7 linked regions of the Homo sapiens genome follow. The protein of the gene in region 1 purifies or fractionates together with the protein of each later gene. This does not show direct contact. Each region holds a gene or a part of one and is shown in the gene's direction. Other genes may lie near its edges.

Evidence for each region.
Region 2: the proteins of SLC11A1 (region 1) and ABCA3 purify together in Homo sapiens (affinity purification with mass spectrometry; one large-scale study listed by BioGRID and IntAct). This does not show direct contact.
Region 3: the proteins of SLC11A1 (region 1) and TRAFD1 purify together in Homo sapiens (affinity purification with mass spectrometry; one large-scale study listed by BioGRID and IntAct). This does not show direct contact.
Region 4: the proteins of SLC11A1 (region 1) and ZNF146 purify together in Homo sapiens (affinity purification with mass spectrometry; one large-scale study listed by BioGRID and IntAct). This does not show direct contact.
Region 5: the proteins of SLC11A1 (region 1) and TSFM purify together in Homo sapiens (affinity purification with mass spectrometry; one large-scale study listed by BioGRID and IntAct). This does not show direct contact.
Region 6: the proteins of SLC11A1 (region 1) and ZNF787 purify together in Homo sapiens (affinity purification with mass spectrometry; one large-scale study listed by BioGRID and IntAct). This does not show direct contact.
Region 7: the proteins of SLC11A1 (region 1) and AKAP12 purify together in Homo sapiens (affinity purification with mass spectrometry; one large-scale study listed by BioGRID and IntAct). This does not show direct contact.

Annotation. Positions count from the first base shown.
Region 1 is NC_000002.12:218,388,773-218,392,272, forward strand, and holds part of SLC11A1 (natural resistance-associated macrophage protein 1), read left to right. Parts: exon of another isoform or gene 1-220; intron 221-1,097; coding exon 1,098-1,256; intron 1,257-2,425; coding exon 2,426-2,515; intron 2,516-2,603; coding exon 2,604-2,723; intron 2,724-3,342; coding exon of another isoform or gene 3,343-3,459; exon of another isoform or gene 3,460-3,472; intron 3,473-3,500. UniProt on the Homo sapiens protein: Macrophage-specific antiporter that fluxes metal ions in either direction against a proton gradient.
Region 2 is NC_000016.10:2,275,381-2,278,554, reverse strand, and holds the end of ABCA3 (phospholipid-transporting ATPase ABCA3), read left to right. Parts: intron 1-96; coding exon 97-267; intron 268-485; coding exon 486-676; intron 677-884; coding exon 885-958; intron 959-1,749; coding exon 1,750-1,881; 3' UTR 1,882-2,674; downstream 2,675-3,174. UniProt on the Homo sapiens protein: Catalyzes the ATP-dependent transport of phospholipids such as phosphatidylcholine and phosphoglycerol from the cytoplasm into the lumen side of lamellar bodies, in turn participates in the lamellar bodies biogenesis and homeostasis of pulmonary surfactant.
Region 3 is NC_000012.12:112,128,560-112,132,059, forward strand, and holds part of TRAFD1 (TRAF-type zinc finger domain-containing protein 1), read left to right. Parts: intron 1-1,951; 5' UTR 1,952-1,963; coding exon 1,964-2,010; intron 2,011-3,500. UniProt on the Homo sapiens protein: Negative feedback regulator that controls excessive innate immune responses. Regulates both Toll-like receptor 4 (TLR4) and DDX58/RIG1-like helicases (RLH) pathways.
Region 4 is NC_000019.10:36,235,606-36,239,105, forward strand, and holds the end of ZNF146 (zinc finger protein OZF), read left to right. Parts: exon of another isoform or gene 1-53; 5' UTR 54-835; coding exon 836-1,714; 3' UTR 1,715-3,163; downstream 3,164-3,500.
Region 5 is NC_000012.12:57,795,437-57,798,087, forward strand, and holds the end of TSFM (elongation factor Ts, mitochondrial isoform 2 precursor), read left to right. Parts: intron 1-740; coding exon 741-1,147; 3' UTR 1,148-2,151; downstream 2,152-2,651. Other genes in the region: AVIL (advillin), read right to left, coding at 2,446-2,559. UniProt on the Homo sapiens protein: Associates with the EF-Tu.GDP complex and induces the exchange of GDP to GTP. It remains bound to the aminoacyl-tRNA.EF-Tu.GTP complex up to the GTP hydrolysis stage on the ribosome.
Region 6 is NC_000019.10:56,100,796-56,104,295, reverse strand, and holds part of ZNF787 (zinc finger protein 787), read left to right. Parts: intron 1-1,068; 5' UTR 1,069-1,078; coding exon 1,079-1,157; coding exon of another isoform or gene 1,158-1,459; exon of another isoform or gene 1,460-2,646; intron 2,647-3,500. UniProt on the Homo sapiens protein: May be involved in transcriptional regulation.
Region 7 is NC_000006.12:151,302,467-151,305,966, forward strand, and holds part of AKAP12 (A-kinase anchor protein 12), read left to right. Parts: intron 1-3,280; coding exon 3,281-3,437; intron 3,438-3,500. UniProt on the Homo sapiens protein: Anchoring protein that mediates the subcellular compartmentation of protein kinase A (PKA) and protein kinase C (PKC).

The DNA of each region.
Region 1 (3,500 bases):
GCCTGAGTGACAAAGCAAGACTCCGTCTCAAAAAAAGAAAAAGAACAAGAACTATAGAGCTGGGCGAGGTGGCTCACGCCTGTAATCCCGGCACTTCAGGAGGCAGAGGCAGGTGGATCGCTTGAGCCCAGGAGTTCGAGACCACCCTGGGCAACATGATAAAACCCTGTCTCTACCAACAAAAAATAAAAAATAAAATAAATTAGTTGGGTGTTGTGCACACCTGTAGTCCTAGTTACTCAGGAGGTTGAGGCTTGAGCCCTGGAGGTCGAGGCTGCAGTGAGCTGAGATCCCACCACTGCACTCTCAGTGACACAGTGAGACCCTGTCAAAATAATAATAATAATAATAATAATAATTGCGAAAGGGACTCTGAAGTAAACAAAACAGAGAAATATGATAGAGAATGACTGAAAGTTGGGGAAGTAGATCAGGGAAAAGATATTACAAGCGGAGGGAAAGCAAGTGCAAAGGCCACTGGCAGAAGTGAACAAGGCTTGGGTCCCTAACAGCTTAACAGTGGCTCACACCTGTAATCTCAGCATTTTAAGAGGCCAAGACAGGAGAATGCTTGAGCCCAGGAGTTCAAGGCTAGCCTAGCAAGACCCTGTCTCTGCAGAAAATTTAAAAATTAGCGGGTTGTAGTGGTGTGTGTCTGTGGTCCCAGCTACTTAGGAGGCTGGGGCAGGAGGATCACTTGGGCCCATGAGTTGGAGGCTGCAGTGAGCCATGCATTGCACCACGGCACTCCAGTCTGGGTGACAGAACAAAACCTGTCTCTAAAAAATAAAATAAAGTAAGCTGGACACGTCTGAGGATGGAACAAGGTGAGTGAAGGAGCGTGTCAGGACCTGAGGTAGCCAGGGACCTCAAAGGCCAGCCTTGCTTCACCCACACAGTGGCTTACAGTGGTAAGGCCTCTGTGGCAAGAACAGAGATGTAGGAAACCATCGGCTGACCTGAACCTGCCCCAGACTGCCACGCAGGGGACTTAAGAAGGTACTGGGCTTTGGGGAGAACATAGAAGTGTGAGGGTGGGGGACACTGTGGTGGCTCTGAGGGACTTTGGCACTTCCCTCTCCCTTTGATCTTCGTAGTCTCGAGAGATAGACCGGGCCCGCCGAGCAGACATCAGAGAAGCCAACATGTACTTCCTGATTGAGGCCACCATCGCCCTGTCCGTCTCCTTTATCATCAACCTCTTTGTCATGGCTGTCTTTGGGCAGGCCTTCTACCAGAAAACCAACCAGGCTGCGGTGAGACACACTTTCCCCCGCACCTGAGGCCACACACGTACTCATGTCCTGTAAGCCTTGCCGAGGACCCTAGGCAATGCAGCTGAGCCCTTCTGAGTCTCTGCCCTGATGATCTTCCCTGTTGGCAGATATCATTCATTCAGCAAATAATCATTGAGCATTTGTTATATACCAAGCACATCCTAGACCCTGGGGATACAGCAGTCAATGCTACAAAGACCCAGCTCTCTGCAGCTTAAATAGGGAGGGAGGTGAGCAGACAGGAATGAATACCCAAGGGAAGTACAGAGTGGGAAGAAATAAAGGGGGTGAAGAAGCATAGTTGGGGGTATGGGGGTGGGGTCTGCATTAGCCCAGGTGGTCAGGAAAGGCTTCTTGGAAGAGATGACATTTGTGCTAATACTGGAAAAGGAACTAGCCAGCTCCTCCCTGACTCTCTGGGATCTGGGACCTGTGTCTGTCTCCCCTTCTGAGTGGATCTCAGTCATGAGGCTCTAACAACTGCAGCCAGGGTTGGGGGCTTCCTGAATGCTGAGCCCTGTGGGAGAAGGGGTGGCCAGGCCTCCAAGGACCTGGGCACTGCCACTGCCTTGCTCTGTGACCTTGGGAGGTCACACTCCTCCCTGGGTCTCACTCTGTTCCTTGGCACAAGGAGGGAGATCAACATCAGGACTGCAAACCCTTGTCTTCAAGACCAGGCAGGCGCAGAGTTGTGGGAAGTGGACAGTGTGAAGAGGGCATGGCAGCCAGCTGTCTCTGTGGTGATGCCAGCTCTTACGAACCTAAAAGAAGCTGGAAACTGGGTTCTTATGCCAGGCCTTCTCAATTTTAAATGTTGGCAACAAATCCACATTAAAGAAAAAAAAAACCCGGCCGGGTGCGGTGGCTCACGCCTGTAATCCCAGCACTTTGGGAGGCTGAGGCAGATGGCTCGCTTGAGCCCGGGAGTTCAAGACCAACCTGGGCAACATGACAAGACCCCCATCGCTACAAAACGTAAAAGTAAAACAAAACAAAACCCAACTTATTTTGTTAGCCAAACAAAATATGTCTGGCCAGATTCAGCCTTGGGCCACCAGTTTTGGAACCCTGGTCAGTGCTAGGCAGTCCAGTTTCCCAAGGCTGAGCGTGCTCCTCACATCTTCCTTCTACTGCCCTGGTACCCACAGTTCAACATCTGTGCCAACAGCAGCCTCCACGACTACGCCAAGATCTTCCCCATGAACAACGCCACCGTGGCCGTGGACATTTACCAGGGGGTGAGCGCGGGTGGGTGGGGAGGGCGTGACCCAGAGAGGCTCCCCGCCTCGGGCAGGGCCACCGGTCCTACCACACTCGTCCCTGCAGGGCGTGATCCTGGGCTGCCTGTTCGGCCCCGCGGCCCTCTACATCTGGGCCATAGGTCTCCTGGCGGCTGGGCAGAGCTCCACCATGACGGGCACCTACGCGGGACAGTTCGTGATGGAGGTAGGGCAGGGGGCGGGCCCAGGAGGGCAAGGGGTCCAAGGACAGCAGGCACACTACTGGGGGCTAGAACTCCGAGCCTTGTGGGTCCTCTTTTCTTTTCTTTCTTTTCTTCCTTTTTTTTTGTTTTTGTTTTTGTTGTTGTTGTTGAGACGGAGTCTCGCTCTTGTCGCCCAGGCTGGAGTGCAGTGGCGCGATCTCGGCTCACTGCAACCTCCCCCTCCCAGGTTCAAGCTTCTCCTGCTTCAGCCTCCTCAGTAGCTGGGATTTCAGGCACCTGCCACCAGGCCTGGCTAATTTTTGTACTTTTAGTAGAGACAGGGTTTCGCCATGTTGGCCAGGCTAGTCTTGAACTCTTGACCTCAAGTGATCCGCCTGCCTTGGCCTCCCAAAGTGCTGGAATTACAGGTGTGAACCACCGCACCCGGCCAATTTTTGTATTTTTAGTAGAGACGCAGTTTTGCTGTGTTGGCCAGGCTGGTCTCAAACTCTTGACCTCGTGATCCGCCCGCCTTGGACTCCTGAAGTGCTGGGATTATAGGCGTGAGCCACTGCGTCCGGCCTTTTCTTTTCTTTCTTTCTTTCCTTTTTTTTGAGACGGCGTTTCGCTCTTATTGCCCAGGCTGGAGTGCAATGGCGCGATCTCCGGCTCACCGCAACCTCCACCTCCTGGGTTCAAGCAATTCTCCTGCCTCAGCCTCCTGACCAGCTGGGATTACAGGCCACCACACCCAGCTAATTTTGTATTTTCAGTAAAGACGGGGTTTCTCCATGTTGGTC
Region 2 (3,174 bases), on another chromosome or scaffold:
TGTGGGCCGCTGCTGGGACACGGGCCTCCACTGGGACATGGGAGCCAATGCTAACTCTCAGCCTTATTCCCCCACCTGGCACCCTCCTGCCTCTAGTGGTGGTAACAAGCGGAAGCTGAGCACCGGCATCGCCCTGATCGGAGAGCCTGCTGTCATCTTCCTGGACGAGCCGTCCACTGGCATGGACCCCGTGGCCCGGCGCCTGCTTTGGGACACCGTGGCACGAGCCCGAGAGTCTGGCAAGGCCATCATCATCACCTCCCACAGGTAGAGCCTGGGTCTGTGGGTTACTGGAAGTTTCAGCACCGGGTGGGCCATGGAGGAGCCAGGTGGCCAGGAGACCCATCAGCATCTGGTGCAGAGTCTGCCCGTGAGCCACACTGAGCATGGGTATCAGGAACAGCCTGATCGGAGAGCCAATGCCTTCCTGTCTGCACAAGCCTTTGGCACCCCAAGCCCTATCTGAGGTCCCGCCCTCTCCACAGCATGGAGGAGTGTGAGGCCCTGTGCACCCGGCTGGCCATCATGGTGCAGGGGCAGTTCAAGTGCCTGGGCAGCCCCCAGCACCTCAAGAGCAAGTTCGGCAGCGGCTACTCCCTGCGGGCCAAGGTGCAGAGTGAAGGGCAACAGGAGGCGCTGGAGGAGTTCAAGGCCTTCGTGGACCTGACCTTTCCAGGTGTGTGCCGGCCCCGGCAGCCCCCACTGGGTGGGCCCTGGGCCCCTACCTAGGCCTCTCCCATCTGCTGTGCGGAGCGTCTGTGCCTCGCCCCGCCAAGTCCCATCTCCCCAATCCCTGGGACGAGGACTCCAGTGCTGAGCACCCAGGCACCCTCCCCGATCCTCCAGCCCGGCGCTCACAGCAACACCGTCTCTCCTTTGTGCAGGCAGCGTCCTGGAAGATGAGCACCAAGGCATGGTCCATTACCACCTGCCGGGCCGTGACCTCAGCTGGGCGAAGGTGAGGCAGTCCCTGGGGCCCCACTGGGCACTCATGGGGCAGGGGGAGGTCCCTCCAGGGGTCTCTCCCTCTGTGGTGACTGCAGGCTCTTTCCACAGAGGAGTCACTTTCCATTTCTCCCCTAACACTCAGCCTGATACGTGCTGGTTTGGGGGTTTTATATCCAAAATTATCAGTGGTAAAAGGAATTCAGTGTAAAACAGGAAAGGGGTCAGGGATGGTGGCTCACACCATAATCCCAGCACTTTGGGAGGCCGAGGAGGGAGGATTGCTTAAGCCTGGGAGTTCTAGACCAGCCTGGGCAACATAGACCCCGTCTCTACAAAAAATTTAAAAATTAGCCAGGTATCATGCATACCTGTAGTCCCAGCCACTCGGGAGGCTAAGGTGGGAGGATCGCTTGAGCCTGGGAGTTCGAGACTGCAGTGAGCTATGATTGTGCCACTGCACTCCAGCCTGGGCTACAGAGCAAGACTCTCTCTAAAAAAATATGGGGGAAAAAAAGAACTGGCTCAGAAAGGGAACATCACTGGCTCAAGGTTGTAATCTGAGCTGGGAACAGCACAGGGAGGAGGCTGGGCCCCATCCCCGCTGGCTCCTGCTTAGCCAGCGTCCTCTACCTGGGAGCACGGTGCCGTCGCAGGGCTGACCTCTCTGGGGCTCTGGGGTGGCGCTGGGCAGGGGTAGGATTGTGGGGGCCTCATCAGCCCCTATTGCCAGAGGACTCCCAGGTCCCGCAGAGGAGCCTGGGCCCTGTTCTCTCCTACCAGTGACTTTTCTGCTCCCCAAAGGTTTTCGGTATTCTGGAGAAAGCCAAGGAAAAGTACGGCGTGGACGACTACTCCGTGAGCCAGATCTCGCTGGAACAGGTCTTCCTGAGCTTCGCCCACCTGCAGCCGCCCACCGCAGAGGAGGGGCGATGAGGGGTGGCGGCTGTCTCGCCATCAGGCAGGGACAGGACGGGCAAGCAGGGCCCATCTTACATCCTCTCTCTCCAAGTTTATCTCATCCTTTATTTTTAATCACTTTTTTCTATGATGGATATGAAAAATTCAAGGCAGTATGCACAGAATGGACGAGTGCAGCCCAGCCCTCATGCCCAGGATCAGCATGCGCATCTCCATGTCTGCATACTCTGGAGTTCACTTTCCCAGAGCTGGGGCAGGCCGGGCAGTCTGCGGGCAAGCTCCGGGGTCTCTGGGTGGAGAGCTGACCCAGGAAGGGCTGCAGCTGAGCTGGGGGTTGAATTTCTCCAGGCACTCCCTGGAGAGAGGACCCAGTGACTTGTCCAAGTTTACACACGACACTAATCTCCCCTGGGGAGGAAGCGGGAAGCCAGCCAGGTTGAACTGTAGCGAGGCCCCCAGGCCGCCAGGAATGGACCATGCAGATCACTGTCAGTGGAGGGAAGCTGCTGACTGTGATTAGGTGCTGGGGTCTTAGCGTCCAGCGCAGCCCGGGGGCATCCTGGAGGCTCTGCTCCTTAGGGCATGGTAGTCACCGCGAAGCCGGGCACCGTCCCACAGCATCTCCTAGAAGCAGCCGGCACAGGAGGGAAGGTGGCCAGGCTCGAAGCAGTCTCTGTTTCCAGCACTGCACCCTCAGGAAGTCGCCCGCCCCAGGACACGCAGGGACCACCCTAAGGGCTGGGTGGCTGTCTCAAGGACACATTGAATACGTTGTGACCATCCAGAAAATAAATGCTGAGGGGACACAGTCACAGTCTGTGGGTCACACGCGCGAGCGGTCACAGGGCTCAATCACTCGCCCACAATCTAGACATGAGGCTCTCCTTTCACATTTCAATCACACAAACGTGGGACGTTGCTTTTCCCAGAAGGGAGCACACGCAGAGAATACACTGAGGTGAAGGAACAGGCCCATAACACAAAGGAAAAAGCCGGCTAGATCAACGCCCGGTGACAGGCTCTTAGTCTAAAGACAAGAGCAGGTGGGGCTGTGTGGGAAGCACAGGTCTGGTGGGAGAGAAGCTGCTGGCATCAGGGTCACCCGTGGGCATTTGCCATTTCCCAGAAATAACTCCTCATCAGCTCCCTTTTTAGTTATTTATGGAGTCTTGCTTTGTTGCCCAGGCTGGAGTGCAGTGGCGCAATCTTGGCTCACTGCAACTTCTGCCTCCCGGGTTCAAGCCATTCTCCTGCCTCTGCCTCCCGAGTAGCTGGGACAACAGGCACGCGCCACCACACCCAGCTAAT
Region 3 (3,500 bases), on another chromosome or scaffold:
TATCAACTATGTGATCATGGTTTACATCAATAGTAAAATAAGACTGTTGACATCATGTACCTTCTGATATAAGGCACTGAGATGAGCACAACATGATTTCTATGGTGTTCTTGCCAAAAATATATAACCTGAATTTAATCATGAGAAAATATCAGACAAACCCAAATTGAAGGATATTATATAAAATAACTAGCTGGCTGGGCACGGTGACTCATGCCTGTAATCCCAGCACTTTGGGAGGCTGAGGCTGGCTGGTGGATCATATGAGGTCAGGAGTTTGAGACCAGCCTGGTCAACATGGTGAAACTCCATCTCTACTGAAAATACAAAAATTAGCTGGGCATGGTGGTGCACACCTGTGGTCCCAGCTACTCAGGAGGCTGAGGTCGAGGTTGCAGTGAGCCGAGATCGCAGTGAGCCGAGATCGCACCACTGCACTCCAGCCTAGACAGCAGAGTGAGACTCTGTTTAAAAAAAAAAAAAAAAAAAAAGCCAGTATGCTTAACAAGGTCATGAAAGAGAAGGAAAGACTGAAGAACTCTCCCAAATCAAAGGAGATTAACTACAAGTAATAGCCAAATGCAGTGTGTGATCCTAGATTGAATGCTGAACCAGAAAAAGGGTGGGATGGTGATTTTTTTTTTTTTTTTTTTTTTTTTTGAGACAGGATCTCACTCTGTCACCCAGGCTAGGGTGCAGTGGTACAATCACTGCTCACTGCAGCTTTGACCTCCTGGGCTTAAGTGATCTTCCCATCTCAGCCTTCTGAGTAGTTGGGACCACAGGTGTGTGCCACCACGTCTGGCTAATTTTTAAATTGTTTGTAGAGAAGGGTTTCACCATGTTGCCCAGGCTGATCTTAAACTCCTGGGTTCAAGCGATCCTCTTCAGCTCAGCCTCCCAAAGTTCTGGGAGTACAGGCATGAGCCCCTGTGCCTGACTTGTTGGTGAAATTTGAATGAATTCTATAGATTAGTTACTAGTATTGTATTAGTGTTAATTTCCTCTATTTGATAATTTTACTATTGTTATGATGCTTTTAGGGTAATTGGATGAAGTCTGTAAGGGATGTTATTTTATTTTTATTTATTTATTTATTTTTGAGACGGAGTCTTACTCTGTCGCTAGGGTGGAGTGCAGTGGCACGATCTTGGCTCACTGCAACTTCTGACTCCCTGGTTGAAGCGATTCTCCTGCCTCAGCCTCGCGAGTAGCTGGGATTACAGGCATGCGCCACCACACCCAGCTAATTTTTGTATTTTTAGTAGAGATGGGGGTTTCACCATGTTGGCTAGGATGGTCTCGATCTCCTGACCTTGTGATCTGCCTGCCTCGGCCTCCCTAAGTCCTGGGATTACAGGTGTGAGCCACTGCGCCTGGCCAGGATGTTATTATTATTATTATTTTTGAGACAGGGTCTCACTCTGTCACCCAGGCTGGAGTGCAGTGGCATGATCATGGCTCTCTGCAGCCTTAAACTCCTAGGCTTAAGCATTCCTCTTGCACATTCCTCCTGCCTCGGCCTCTCGAGTAGCTGGGACTACAGGCACACATCACCATGCCTGGGTAATTTTTTTTTTTTGTATTTTTTGTAGACATGACGTTACCCCATGTTGTGGCCAGGTTGGTCTTAAACTCCTGGGCTCAAGTGATCCGCCTGCCTCGGCCTCCCAAAGTACTGAGATTACAGGCATGAGCCACTGTACCCAGCCTAGTAAAAGTATTTTATTTTATTATTTTTATTTTTTAAAACTCCCTTATCCAATAAAATTATTTTAAATTGAAAATTTTAAAATAAGAAAATCCCAAGGGACTGGATATTGAATAAAATGCTTTAACATGCAGGTTTGGGTGACAGTTTCTGTATACTAGTTTTTTATTTGTTTTTTTGCATGTCATCTTTAAAGCAGAAATGAAAGAGAAAGTTCATGTCTTCCTTTGTGGTTTTCAGGAAGAGCTAAAGATGGCTGAATTTCTAGATGACCAGGAAACTCGACTGTGTGACAACTGGTAAGACATTAAATCTAAGAAATGTTAGTGGAATGAGGACAGTCAAGCTTAATCACTATCATTTCCTGATTTAAAAACTGTTAGTGAAGACTGGCACAGTCTTGAGTTAAGCTTTCTATTTTGGTGTTTATAACCCACATGAATTACAAGAAAGAGCATCTCTTTCCTGATGAAATGAAACCGGTTGTAAAGTTAATAATCAGCTGGTTCCTGTTGGGGTTTTCCTAAGAACTTATCTTGGTATCTTGGTGCTATACAAGTGCTGTTACTGTAAGCTGACAAAAAAAGCAAAGCAGAACTGTCTGCTATGTTTATTACTTTATTTTCCTTCACTGGGTACTTCTTTCACAATGTGCTATGTTTACCTTAGCAAACTGTGGTAGAAAGAGATGTGGAATAAGGAAAATAGTTTAACTCATTGGTGGAATATTTGAGCCAAATAACATTTTTGTCATCATCGTTGTCTTTTTCTTTCTTCTCAGCCTAACTTTGGCAGAATTAGAATATAATTAGAGCAACAGCTGGTTACAATATTCTTTACCTGCTTGGAATTAAGATTTCATCTCATTGTAGGTGTCTTGCCATATTGTAGAGTATTTCTGCTATGCCACTATCACTTTCTACCATTTCATAAACTATTTTAGTTTTGTTTGGGTTTTATATGTATAGCTACTGAAACAGAGTAATCAGAAACAAATAATCAAAAGAAAACATGATTTTGTAAGAAAAGAGACACATTGGTTTTTAGCATTAGTTAAGATACACCTATTTTATCAGTCCACTCCAATTAGGAGGAATCTCAAGCCTAGGACAAAATATAAATAACTATGCTAAGAGAGTTAAAGGGTGAGTTAATGGAAAGCTAGTGAAAAACAATGCTATTCAAAGCCAAAGAAATTAAAGAAAAAAGCAGATTAGCATAGAAGGCTGACTAAACCTGTAAAGAATTAATTTCTGGCTGTTTGTGTTTAGTGTTTGGAAAGTTCTTGGGAATTTTTCTGGAAGCTTTGGTTTGCCTTTCAGCTATTTCTATCTAAATGAAATTTCACCTCTAATTTGCTAGCCCTTCCTTGAGACTTTTAGCAGTTTTATCTGGATACGGAATTGTGTGCTCATTTATCTCACTTAAAACATCTTCATTTTCTCCGAAGGTAGGAAGTAAGCATATTAGTATTTGGTCTGGTTGGAATGTTTGGTAGGAATATGTTGGCAGTTAAATTTTAAAAGAAAAAAACCCAGCAGGCAACTGTTTTATATAATTGTTGCAAATATCTTTTTTATTTCAGCATTTCCTAAGAGGTGAATATGTGCAATAGTAAATGCTTTGTGGTCTTACTTGACAGCTGCTTTTGATTCTTGTTGCTTCATATTATGATGGTGTGGTCCTTAATATTTTTTGTTTTAATTCTAAAGTTTTAGGGGCCTTGTGTATGTAGTATGTCAACAAGTTATCCTGAACAGCCTTGTAAAGTAAATGCTAGACATTTAGT
Region 4 (3,500 bases), on another chromosome or scaffold:
GCACTTTATGAATTTAACTCCTTTGTGCTATGGTTCTTTGTACTCCATTTTAGAAGAAGCCTGAGAAGATGATGCACAGATAGAGAGGCACCAGGACTTGAGAGGCACCAGGACTTGGGAGGCATGTTGATCCATCTCCAGGAAAGACTGAGAAAAAGAGCGTTGAATATAAGAAAAAATACTTCCTCTGTTCTCAGATCGTATTTGTTTTAAGGCCACACCTTTTTGAAGTTTTCAGTTTGAAACACAACCTGGACTGAAATCATGAGGGAGGTTGTGTAGGAAAGAATCATCAAGGGACTTAGTTGGGAGCTTCTCTACCACAGCTTACTCCTTATGGTATTAACCCCCTTTAAGTGTAAATGTCTTTGGTTTAAAACGTTTGTACCTCATCTGTTACCAGAGTGTTCATACTGGAGAGAAACCCTATGAATTTACTGAATGTGGGGGAACTGTTACTCATATGTTGCATTTCGTCGAACGTGCAAGTCATGCTGAAGAGAAACCCTGTGCTTCTAAGGAGTATTGACAAGCCCTTAGCTAGATGACAATCTCATTGAGAAGCAGAAAATTCATGCTGGAGAGAAACTAGTGAAGGTAGCAATACTTCATTGAATATTAGAAAATTTTTCTAGAGAGAAAGCATTGAATATACTGAGTATGATAACATTTCCTCTCAAACCTTATCCCTTACTCTGCATTTGGGAGATCATACACAGAGAAGCCTTATAAATGTAAGAGATGTGGAAATATCTTCAGCCAAAAGTAAATCCTCACTCATCAAGAAATTTTTACTGGAGAGAAACCTTGTGAATGTGGGAAAGCTTCCATTCAGATGTCACACCTCAGCCAGCAGAGAATTTACAGTGGGGAAAACCCCTTTGCCTGTAAGGTATGTGGAAAAGTCTTCAGCCACAAATCAAACCTCACTGAGCATGAGCATTTTCACACGAGAGAGAAACCTTTTGAATGTAACGAGTGTGGAAAAGCCTTTAGCCAAAAGCAGTATGTCATTAAACATCAGAACACCCATACTGGCGAGAAGCTTTTCGAATGTAATGAATGTGGAAAATCATTTAGCCAGAAGGAAAACCTCCTTACGCACCAGAAAATTCACACTGGAGAAAAACCTTTTGAGTGTAAAGATTGCGGGAAAGCTTTCATTCAGAAGTCAAACCTCATCAGACACCAGAGAACTCACACAGGAGAGAAGCCCTTTGTATGTAAGGAGTGTGGAAAAACCTTCAGTGGCAAATCCAACCTTACTGAGCATGAGAAAATCCATATTGGAGAGAAGCCTTTTAAATGTAGTGAATGTGGAACAGCCTTTGGCCAGAAGAAGTACCTCATAAAACATCAGAACATTCACACTGGAGAGAAACCCTATGAATGTAACGAATGTGGAAAAGCCTTCTCTCAGCGAACATCACTTATTGTACATGTGAGGATTCATTCAGGTGATAAACCTTACGAATGCAATGTTTGTGGAAAAGCCTTCTCTCAGAGCTCATCTCTCACTGTGCATGTGAGAAGCCATACAGGGGAGAAGCCCTATGGTTGTAATGAATGTGGGAAAGCTTTCTCTCAGTTCTCAACCCTTGCTCTGCATTTGAGAATACACACAGGTAAGAAGCCTTATCAGTGCAGTGAATGTGGGAAAGCTTTCAGCCAGAAGTCACACCACATTAGACACCAGAAAATTCATACTCACTAAAAACCCCATGAAAGCCTTGAAAGTGGGAAAGCTTTCATTAGAAATTTGCACCTCATCATGCCCCAGAAATAATCCTTCTGAAGCAAAGCACCACGAATGAGGTTAACTTTAACAAGTACTAAAAACTTAAGGGACACCAGAAAATTTGTACTGAAGAGAAAGACATGCATATGATTAAAACCCTGTGTCCAACAGAGAAACCTGCAGCAGAGATAATGGTGAAAGTTTAGGCACATTTTCACTAAAAGTGGGAACAGAAAATGGAGGCCTGTTTTTTATTGCTACCACCATAGATCTGGAGATCTTCGCCAGTAACAAGAAAAATTAAGTTGTAAATATTGGAAAGGAACAGACAAAAATAGATGACATGGTCATCTACAACTAATATTAAGACTCCTGTGGTATTGATTGAGCAGAGCAGAAGAGATTTCAAAAAAAGACCTATGCATTTATTAGAATTTGGAATATGATACAAGTGGCATCAGGAAATGAGGAAATAATGGAACTATTTTTTTTAAGTGGAGGTAGTTTGTTCTCCAAGGGGGAAAAATAGACCATGAACTATACACAAAAGTGAATCCAGAGATTAAAAACAGAAATATGGAAAAGCTATGTACTAAAATGCATATGACCTTGGGAATAGGGAAACATTCCTTGGAACAATTTGAGAAATACTTAGCGGTTCTACTTATGAGTATGAATGCTCAGGAAATACGCACTAGGATATTTACTGTGGCTTGATTTGTAGTAGCCAAAAATTAGAAACAACTGAGAAAGCCCATCACGAACAATATGGGAAATTCTTATGTAATACTATATATCTGTAAAATGCAACAAATGAAATCCACATGTATTAACAGAAAGATCCCAGAATTGTTGAGGGGGGATCAAGTTGCAGAATGATACAGATAGTACAATGACTTTTTTGTAAATTTGAATTAAAAGTTTCCTCATAAAACTCAGTACTATCTATTGGTAATGGATGCATATATGTATGTACATGTTTTTGAAACGGATTGGAAGGATACAGACCAAACTCTTGATAGTGGTCACCTGTGAAGAGTGGAGAAGGGAAAATAATGAGTGTGGGAGGTGGGATGGGTATTGGTTAAAGGGGACTTCAGCTTTTTATATAAACATCCACTTCTCTTTCAAAAGACTTCAAGTAAATATAAGAAGATACTGATTGATTCTGGATTGTGGTATAGGGATATCTTGTCTTATTTTTTGTACTTTTCTGTATTTTTAAAATTTCTCAAAATAGGAATGGGAGTGAGGATGGGAATGCTGTATCTGTGGAAGTCATGTTATACTGGATTCATTTCCAATTAAATACTAAACATTTTATAGAAAATATTTCTAAAATTTTATCACGGATGAATGGATGGACTTGCTCTCTATGTAATATGAAATTAATCTATTTTATTAAAATTTAAAAGGACAGCACAATCCAAATCTGTTTTAATTATTTTAACATGGCATACACACTATATCGGGGTCCCCAGCTCCCCCCAGCTGCATGGCAGGAGGTGAGTGGCGGGTGAGCGAGCATTGCCACCTGAGCTCCACCTCCTGCCAGATCAGCGGTGGCATTAGTTCTCATAGGAGCGCGAACCCTATTGGGAACTGTGCATGTGAGGAATCCAGGTTGTGCGCTTCTTATGAGAATGTAACGCCTGATGATCTGAGGTGGAACAGTTTCATCCTGAAAACATCCCATCCCCATTCTTCTACCCCCACAAACCGTCCGTGGAAAAATTGTCTTCCATGAAACAGGTCCCTGGTA
Region 5 (2,651 bases), on another chromosome or scaffold:
GAAAGGTAGGTGGTGTCATCTCTATTTTAAAGGTGAGGAAACAAAGGCTTGATAAATTTAGTAAATGAGATTATGTCATTGAGTCACTTGCCCGAGGTCATATAGTCAGTAAATAGGCAGAACTGAGACCTGAGTCACACATACTTGTGTCACCACAACCTATACAACCTATGTTTGTTGTTTTTTTTGTTTTTTTTGTTTTTGGAGAGAGTCTTGTTCCCAGGATGGACTGCAATGGTACGATCTCGGCTCACTGCAACCTCCGCTTCCTGGGTTCAAGTGATTCTCCTGCCTCAGCCTCCTGATTAGTTGGGATTACAGGTGCACACCACCACGCCCAGCTGATTTTTGTATTTTTAGTAGAAACAGGGTTTCATCCATGTTGGCCAGGCTGGTCTTGAATTCCTGACCTCAGGTGATCTACCCGCTTCAGCCTCCCAAAGTGCTGGGATTACAGACGTGAGCCACTACACCCGGCCTGTTTTTAAGTACCAGAGTGCCTGGCACATAGTTGGTGCTTCATAAAGGTATTCTTCACTTCCCCCACTCCCGCTCTCCTGCCCCATACCCCTTTTCCTCTTTCTACAAAAACTGAAAATGGTATCTCTTCATCTTACTGCATATCCTATGTAAATGCAAAGGGACTGTCTTCCAAACTGGGCCTCTTCTGTGCATATTTTGGTACCATCACAGACATCACAATTTGTTGGTGTGTTGGTTTTTTGTTTTTGCTTTAATAGGAAAACTGGGAGAAAACATGATTCTTAAACGAGCTGCATGGGTGAAGGTGCCATCTGGGTTCTACGTTGGCTCTTATGTCCACGGAGCAATGCAGAGTCCCTCACTTCACAAGCTGGTGCTGGGGAAGTATGGGGCCCTGGTCATCTGTGAGACGTCTGAACAGAAAACAAACCTTGAAGACGTTGGCCGCCGCCTTGGGCAGCATGTGGTGGGCATGGCCCCCCTCTCTGTTGGCTCCCTGGACGATGAGCCTGGGGGAGAGGCAGAGACTAAGATGCTGTCCCAGCCGTATTTGCTGGATCCCTCCATTACCTTGGGGCAGTATGTGCAGCCTCAGGGGGTGTCGGTAGTAGACTTTGTGCGGTTTGAATGTGGAGAAGGTGAAGAGGCAGCAGAAACTGAATAGGTTCCAGAGACTTTTGGCCCAGGAGGAATATTTACTTTTAGCTCTGGACATCATTACAAAAAGGAATATTTCCCAAACCTCTTCAGACCGAGAATGCATGGGTAAAATTATTAAATAGTTGTATAATAAAAATAATTTTTTCCTTGTTTGCGTAATACTGGATTTAGCTTTTCTGTGCCTTTCAAAAACAACAGGTGGGCCTTATTGACGTGATAGTGTCGTGGAGAACAGGCATCAACAATACTGCTGCTCCCTTCAACATAGATTTATTATGGTATTTCTGAAATTTCTAACTTATATGTTCTGTCTTACACCTTTTATGACATAGAACTCTTTTGTTCTGTTTTTGCTTTGCGACACTGTGAACCGTGCTTCTGCCTCGGAACCTCCCTAGTTATATTACTTGTGCCACATGGATTTCTTTAGGATTATTGATTCAAACCTAGAGTTGTCTGGAAAATGTGGGTTCTCTTCTTTGTGATTGTCTGTAGTATGCTTTGAAGGTGCTCTGCAGTGGTAGACACACTGGTTCTGGCCTCATTTAATGAAATTAATAACACATGCCCCTATTTCTCTTTTGGATGATGTGTGGGTGGGTGGGTACTGAGGTTTCCTGGCCAGCTGTAAGGCAGATTTTGACATTCTTGTGCCAGAAACAGAAATTAGAGTAGTCCAGTTACCCAGAGAGCTCACTTAACATTGCCTCTTTACTTCCCCAGTACTGAAACATTTCTTCAAGTATAACATAAAATTACCGTAACAAGCAGACCCAGAATACTGAAAATAACTCCATTTGTTCATTATAGGTATCTTTATTTGAAAAGTGAAAAATGCTTTGACACATTACAGATCTGGGTATTTGGATTTTGCCTATGGAGTGCATATATGATTTCAATGATTTACAGGCTAAATAGATTTTAGAAATAATCATCTTAAAATTGAAAACAAAGGTAGGTCCTGGTATAATATTAAACATAAAGTTATTAAACATTTTAAGCATTGTTTTTTGGTTCTCTTTCTTTTGATTTCTCCAGATTTATGCAGTTTTAGTGCTTTCTGCTGAGGCTTTAGCTAGAGGGCCACAAAACCCAAAAACTATATGGTTAACATTTTAGGTATATAACAAGCAAGGAATGCAAGGATGAGAAAAAATGGAGAACATGCCGTGATTTGCAGACTCTATTATATCTAAATTAAGTAGCTGAATGTCAGGCAGAAATTGGTGGATAAATTATTTCCTGATATTGGCACTATCTGCTCTTTTCTGTGGCCTTGCAATAGGTATAGGCCTTCTTGCTTTAGAAAAGCCCCTTTTCTTTCTTCATTTGGAGCTGTTTCCAGCCAGGCAGAGCTGCAAATTGCCCTCTTGTGATGCCAAACACAGACACAAAGTCCTGTTCAGAGAGGTAATTCTAAGAGAGAAAACAAAGTTTCTAGTTAGAAGGAAGACATGACATCATTGCCAACAGAAGTTGAGGAAGTTGGAGCAAGAGGGAGTTCTAGG
Region 6 (3,500 bases), on another chromosome or scaffold:
CGGGTCGGCGGCGTGCGTAGGGACCCTCCCGGTGCGTGGCACGGGTCGGCGGTGTCGTGCGTAGGGACCCTCCCGGTGCGTGGCACGGGTCGGCGGTGTCGTGCGTAGGGACCCTCCCGGTGCGTGGCACGGGTCGGCGGCGTGCGTAGGGACCCTCCCGGTGCGTGGCACGGGTCGGCGGTGTCGTGCGTAGGGACCCTCCCGGTGCGTGGCACGGGTCGGCGGTGTCGTGCGTAGGGACCCTCCCGGTGCGTGGCACGGGTCGGCGGTGTCGTGCGTAGGGACCCTCCCGGTGCGTGGCACGGGTCGGCGGTGTCGTGCGTAGGGACCCTCCCGGTGCGTGGCACGGGTCGGCGGCGTGCGTAGGGACCCTCCCGGTGCGTGGCACGGGTCGGCGGCGTGCGTAGGGACCCTCCCGGTGCGTGGCACGGGTCGGCGGTGTCGTGCGTAGAGACCCTCCCGGTGCGTGGCACGGGTCGGTGGTGTCGTGCGTAGAGACCCTCCTGGTGCGTGGCACGGGTCGGTGGTGTCGTGCGCAGAGACCCTCACGGTGTGTGGCACGGGTTGGGAGTGTCGTGTGCAGAGACCCTTAGGCGCCTGTTGCCCTGTTTCTGCTGTGATGGGTAAGTATCTGCCAGGGGTGTGGGAACTCCAGTCCCTGTTTGGCATGAGCACCACATGTACACTGTCTTGTGTACGCTTGACAGTAACATGTTCTCCATCTTGCCAGTGAGGAAGCTGAGGCGCGAGGAGGCGCGAGGTGGGGTTGCTTGCCCCAGGTCCAGCTGGGGAGTGGTGGGGCTGGGATGGGAACTGGCGGTGGTTGTAGCCCTTGAGGGTCCTTGAGTCCTTCCTGCGGCTGTGTGAGGCCTTGGCTGGCCCCTGCAGTGGGGAGCGGCCAGGCTAGCTCCAGGCCAGTTCTCGGTGTCCTGGGGTAGGTGCTGTGTGCCTTGTCTGCCGGGCGCTGTGCCTGTCACGCCGGGGTCTGCAGGCTGCCTCCCTGCAGGGCCCTCGGTGCAGCCTGGCACCCCATAAACTCTGTCCTTCTGTCTCATCCCCTTCTAACAGGGACCCAGACATGGAGCTGCGGGAAGAAGCCTGGTCTCCGGGGCCGCTGGATTCTGAGGACCAGCAGATGGCCAGTCACGAGAACCCAGGTGAGCAGCCAGAGGCCTTCCCAGCCGACCCCGCTGCCTCCCACCTGACCCTGGCTTCCTTTGCCTCTGGGTGGGAGGAAACCCCCCTTCCCTGTTTTCCCCTCTTGGGGCCCTGGGACCACCCGACCCTGGCCTCCCCTCCCGCCCTGGGCCTTGCACTCCTGGCTGTAGAGGGAGGGCTAGTGTTGTGGCTCCAAGTTTCCTTTCTGCTGGATGATCTTGGGGACCCCTGGGGGCCACCTTCTCTGCCTGACTTCCTCTGTCCTTGCCCCTCCAGCCTGGGCAGCACCCCCGTCTGTTGAGGGTGCCCCCTTCCTCTCCCCACAGCCCCGCCTCCACATCCTGGACCCTCTGCTATGATTCCAGGCGGGCCTGTGGCCCTCCCTGGCAGGAAACTCCTTACACCAGGGGTGGCCCAGGAGCGCAGGGAACCCGCAGGCTGATGCCGACTTTTCAGGGAAAGCTCAGGAGTGCAGGGAACCCGCAGGCTGACGCAGACTTTTCAGGGAAAGTTGTCAGTTTGGGTTTTTATGTGAAATCCTTCACTTTTTGGACATTGGCAATGTGTTTTGTTTGTTTAATAAAGCATTATTGGGGTTGAGCAAAACTCATTTGTGGGCTACGTGGGGCCCAGGTTTGCTTGCGAAGGCCCCATGGTGACCTCACTGTGGCCCCTGACACCTCATGGCCTCCCTCCCCTCCACGGAGGCCGCCTCCCTGCCTCAGACCTGAGGAATAAGGTGCGGCAGCTTCTCTCCTTGCTGTGTCTGCATGTCAGGCCCCAGGTCCCAGGCCCACGCTGGCCCCACGCTGGCCGGGGCTCAGCAGACCTTTTCTGCAGAGAGCCAGAGAGGAAATACTGTTCATCTTGCAGGCTGCGGGCCTCACAGATACCACGCAGCCACAGTCCACACGGAAATGCGTGGGCACACTTGATGCAGAAAGGCCGGCAGAGCTTGCCAGCTCAGGCTGGCATAGCTGAGTCGTCCCATACAAAGACCGGGGTGAAGTTTGGGATCGATTTTGTAAAGCACCTCAGCCCCTTTTTGAGTGATTTCTGAGATCTGTGGATGGAGCATGAACAGAAGCTCCCTGTGGGCGGGGCTGTGGCAGCCTTGGTCCCGGGGTAGAAACTATGATGGGGGTTTTGAGTGCGTTGCCAGGACCGCATGCCCAGGGGGCCCACACCCCGGCCCCAGGCTGCCCCGCGTCTCAGTGGGTGGTTGCCATCCCGCACCGCCACAGCCCTCGAGGGCTGCCCCTGCCTTCTCCCTCGCATACATCCTTGGCCTTCGAACCTTTTCGAAAATTAATTCTGTGGAAATCTCAAGTGTGTGGACGCAGTGTGATGAATCCCTCTTCCTGCGCCAGCGATTCGCGGCACTGCTGGTCCCTTTCTGCCCACTGTGGTTCTCTTTCCACAGCGTTTTAGAGAAAATATCCATCACATCATTTTGTCTGTAAATTCTCCAACATGTAAGGACTCCTTGAAAAAAAGAAAAAGCCCTACAGGAAGCTGATCTCATCTAACAAAATGTCATTTTTCAGGAACTTCATCTAATCTAGCACCCGGTCCTTTTTAAAATACTTCGTTGTCTCCAAAATGCTTGTCTTTGAGTAAGTTCATCTTTAATTTTACAAGTCACTCATACACTCACTCTCTTTGTAGAAGGTAGGTGTCAGGTCCCCTTGTCCAGCCCGCTGCCCTGCCCAGCCCTGGCCCTGCGTCTGTGGGAGTCCTGTCCCCCACCAGGCAGCTGGCTCCGGGGAGGGCCTGCGCTTGGCGCCGCCTCTGGAGCATCACCCCTGCGTGACGCCCTTGCTCGGCTGTCAAAGATGGGCTGCGCACGCTCCCAAGCTGCTCTGGTGTCCGGCGTTCGCGTAACTCCCGTGTGGGGTCCCGCCTACATGCGTCCCCCCTATGTGACAGTGACAGACATCGTAGGTGGGGGTGGAGTGGCGGGGGTTGGCCTGGCCATGGCGTGTGGAGTCCCGCCTACATGCGTCCCTCCTATGTGACAGTGACAGACATCGTAGGCGGGGGTTGGCCTGGCCATAGCATGTGGGGTCCCACTTACGTGCGTCCCTCCTATGTGACAGTGACAGACTTCGTAGGTGGGGGTGGAGTGGCGGGGGTTGGCCTGGCCATGGCGTGTGGAGTCCCGCCTACGTGCGTCCCTCCTATGTGACAGTGACAGACATCGTTCGTGGGGGTGGAGTGGTGGGGGTTGGCCTGGCCATGGCGTATGGAGTCCCGCCTACATGCGTCCCTCCTATGTGACAGTGACAGACATCGTAGGTGGGGGTGGAGTGGCGGGGGTTGGCCTGGCCATAGCATGTGGG
Region 7 (3,500 bases), on another chromosome or scaffold:
TTCTAAAAGAGTAGACGGAAATTTGTGCCTGTGTGCTATAGTCTTCATGTTTAAAGAGACTCAGTTTGGCTCCAACTAAAGATACCTTGGATTGGGCAATTCACAGAGGATTATAAGAATTTTTTCAATAATTTTAGGTACTTGGTAGAACCCTAAACTCTATAGAACTTCAGAGTTCTGGTTCCTAAATAAGAGGCACAATTGACCGAAGTTTATTGCATTGAAATTGAGGTATTAAGATGGCTTTTTTATGTTCCCTGTTTAGTTTGCCATATCATGAAACTGTGTATGTCAACAGTTTCTAGGTTTAAGATTCACTGGGTTACCATGTAGCCCACGATAATATGTGATTCCTGCTTTCCTCCCCCAACTTTTCTTCCTGTTACTAATCAAATCTAAGTCCTGTGTACATACTCAATGATATTTAGTTAGAATACTCTGACATTTGGCTGGGCGCAGTGGCTCATGCCTGTAATCCCAGCACTTTGGGAGGCTGAGGCGGGCGGATCAGCTGAGATCAGGAGTTGGAGACCAGCCTGGCCAACACGAAATCCCGTCTCTACTAAAAATACAAAAATTAGCTGGGCGCAGTGGCAGGCACCTGTAATCCCAGCTACTCGGGAGGCTGAGGCAGAAGAATCACTTGAACCCAAAAGGCGGATGTTGCAGTGAGCCAAGATCATGCCATTGGACTACCTGGGGGACAAGAGCGAAAATCCATCTCAAAAATAAAAATAAAAAAAAGAAATACTCTGACATTTTTGCAGATGGGCTTTGTGGAGACACACTGCCCCCTTCTCCATTCCCTACCCCCTGCTTTTGTCTTTAGGTTTCATTTAAAATGCCCATCTTTCATATTTTGGTAAGAGAAGACTTTAAGTGGAAATGTAATCTGAGTATTCTGTTTAATAAATGGACTCAGCATGGGCATTTTGAAGCCAACAATCCCATCTGTAGTGTAAGTATTAAACTACAGTGGTATTATTTCAGGAGGAAGCTCATGCAGTTGAAGGACAGCCTTGCTGGGAGCCGAGAACAGCCAGGTGAAATCAATTTAGCACAACTTAAGGCTTCTGGATTGCGTGTCTTGAACCCACTGTCCCTTCAGCGTTCAGGGTCTAAGTCAGTGGTGAGTCCAGAGTCATTCATTGGCCTGGAAGCAGGATGGAATGATGTCAGATGGAGTGCAGAGTTGAGATTGCTTTGTAGCATGCAGGTCTGTACCAGACCTTTTCCAGACCGGTTCCAGACCTGGAATACCCTTTAAGTCATTTTATAATTGTGTGTAGTAACAGGACCTTCAAAGCATGGCACGTATCTTTGTAATTGTGTGTAGTAACAGGACCTTCAAAACATGGCACCTATCTTTATAATTGTGTGTAGTAACAGGACCTTCAAAACATGGCACCTATCTTTATGTTGAGAGCCTCAAACAGAAAAACGCTGGAAATAGTTGGTGGCAAGAGTTGGCTTCGGGCCATGATGCCCCCATTCCTGAGCTGTGTGACCTGGGGCAAGACAACCCCACCCCACCAGAATTGCTTTGAGTCCCGGTGTCATTATTATAAAATGGAAATAATAGCAGCTGCCTATGTTGGTTTTAAGATAAATGAGATATCTGTATATATAACATTGCTGTATATTACATTGTTGAAACATTTAGGTTCCTAATGGTTATTGTTTCTATTGGCTTAAAATTTTTTTACCTATATTCTCAGGATTAAAAATACGACCAAGAGCAAGCCGGGCACAGTGGCTCACACCTGTAATCCTAGCACTTTGGGAGGCAGAGGTGGGTGGATCACTTGAGGTCAGGAGTCTGAGACCAGCCTGGCCAACATGGCAAACCACGTCTCTACTAAAAATACAAAAATTAGCCAGGCATGGTGGTGCACGCCTGTAATCCCTGCTATGTGGGAGGCTGAGGCAGGAAGATCACTTGAACCTGGGAACTGGAGGTTGCAGTGAACCGAGATCACGCCACTGCACTTCAGCCTGGGTGAAACAGTGACACTCCATCTCAAAAAAAAAAAAAAAAAAAAAAAAAAAAAAAGGATTATATGACCAAGGGCATGCCTACATGCCTGCTGATTTTGTGGGTTTTTTCATTTTTGTTTTTTGTTTTTCTCGCTCCGTCACCCAGGCTGGAGTGCTGTGGCTCAATCTCTGCTCGCTGTAACCTCCACCTCCCACATCCACCTCCAGGTTCAAGTGATTCTCCTTCTGCAGCCTCCCAGGTAGCTGGGACTACAGGCATGCACCACCATGCCTGGCTAATTTTTTTGTATTATTAGTAGAGACGGGGTTTCACTATGTTGGCCAGGCTGGTCTTGAACTCCTCGTGATCTGCCCGCCTCGGCCTCCCAAAGTGCTGGGATTACAAACATGAGCCACCACGCCCGGCCATGCCTGCTGATTTTGAAACTGATGCCATCAGTTGCACAGGGCATCCTATGGGGAGGATTGCAAATGACCATTGTAGTAATATTTTTAAGGAAAAAACAATGACCCAAATGGACATGTTATATGTGTCTTGTTTGCTTGCTGGGCTCTGGGAGCACTGGCCTTCGCGCCAAGCGGCCTCCCTTCTCTGCACCCCGTTTATCCTTTTCTTACACAGCCCTTGCCTGTGGAAATGAGATCTCAGCTTTACCATTGCTTCCTCAGAGAAGTCCTGGACACCCCCAGCCTCAGTCAGGGCTGTTTTTTTTTTTTTTTTTAAAACCTACTTGATTCATTCTCAAGGGCTCTGTTTATTGTTATTTGTTCTATGTATGCCTCCTTCATGACAGTTTCCACAGCTGCAGTTTAGTAATTATTTGTTTAAAAGTCTGCCTTCTGACTTGTTCAGTCAATTATGCTTAACCTGCATCTAATCACAAGGAAACATTATTTATTATTTTAAAGTAAAAAAGAGGTTTTTAAGTCTGCCTTCCATAGTAATTTGTAAGCTCAAAGCTCTGGGAAACACATCTGATTTTTTCATGGTTATATTTGAAATAGGTCTGGAAAGGTGAATGTATGTATCTGGTGTTCCAATGAATGAATTAATGAGTGGATGAATGGCTGATGGGCACACTTACCCAGATACAAGGCCCTATCTGCTTGTAAGGTAGCTGGATCTTTCAGACAAATATAAGACTTAACTCTTCATTGTTTTTGAACTTCCTTTTCTCTGTATTTCTTCTTTCACTGGTTTGTATTCTGGAAGTTAATGCCTTGTTTCTGACTTGGTCATGAGGACTGAAATTAAGTTTCTATGGCTTTGTCTTTTCCATAGCTCCTACAGAAGAATGGTCAGCTGTCCACCATCAATGGCGTAGCTGAGCAAGATGAGCTCAGCCTCCAGGAGGGTGACCTAAATGGCCAGAAAGGAGCCCTGAACGGTCAAGGAGCCCTAAACAGCCAGGAGGAAGAAGAAGTCATTGTCACAGAGGGTAAGCCGCCCCTCCAGGAACTGGAAGGCACACAGCACTTGCAACAAACTTTGGACTCAGCAG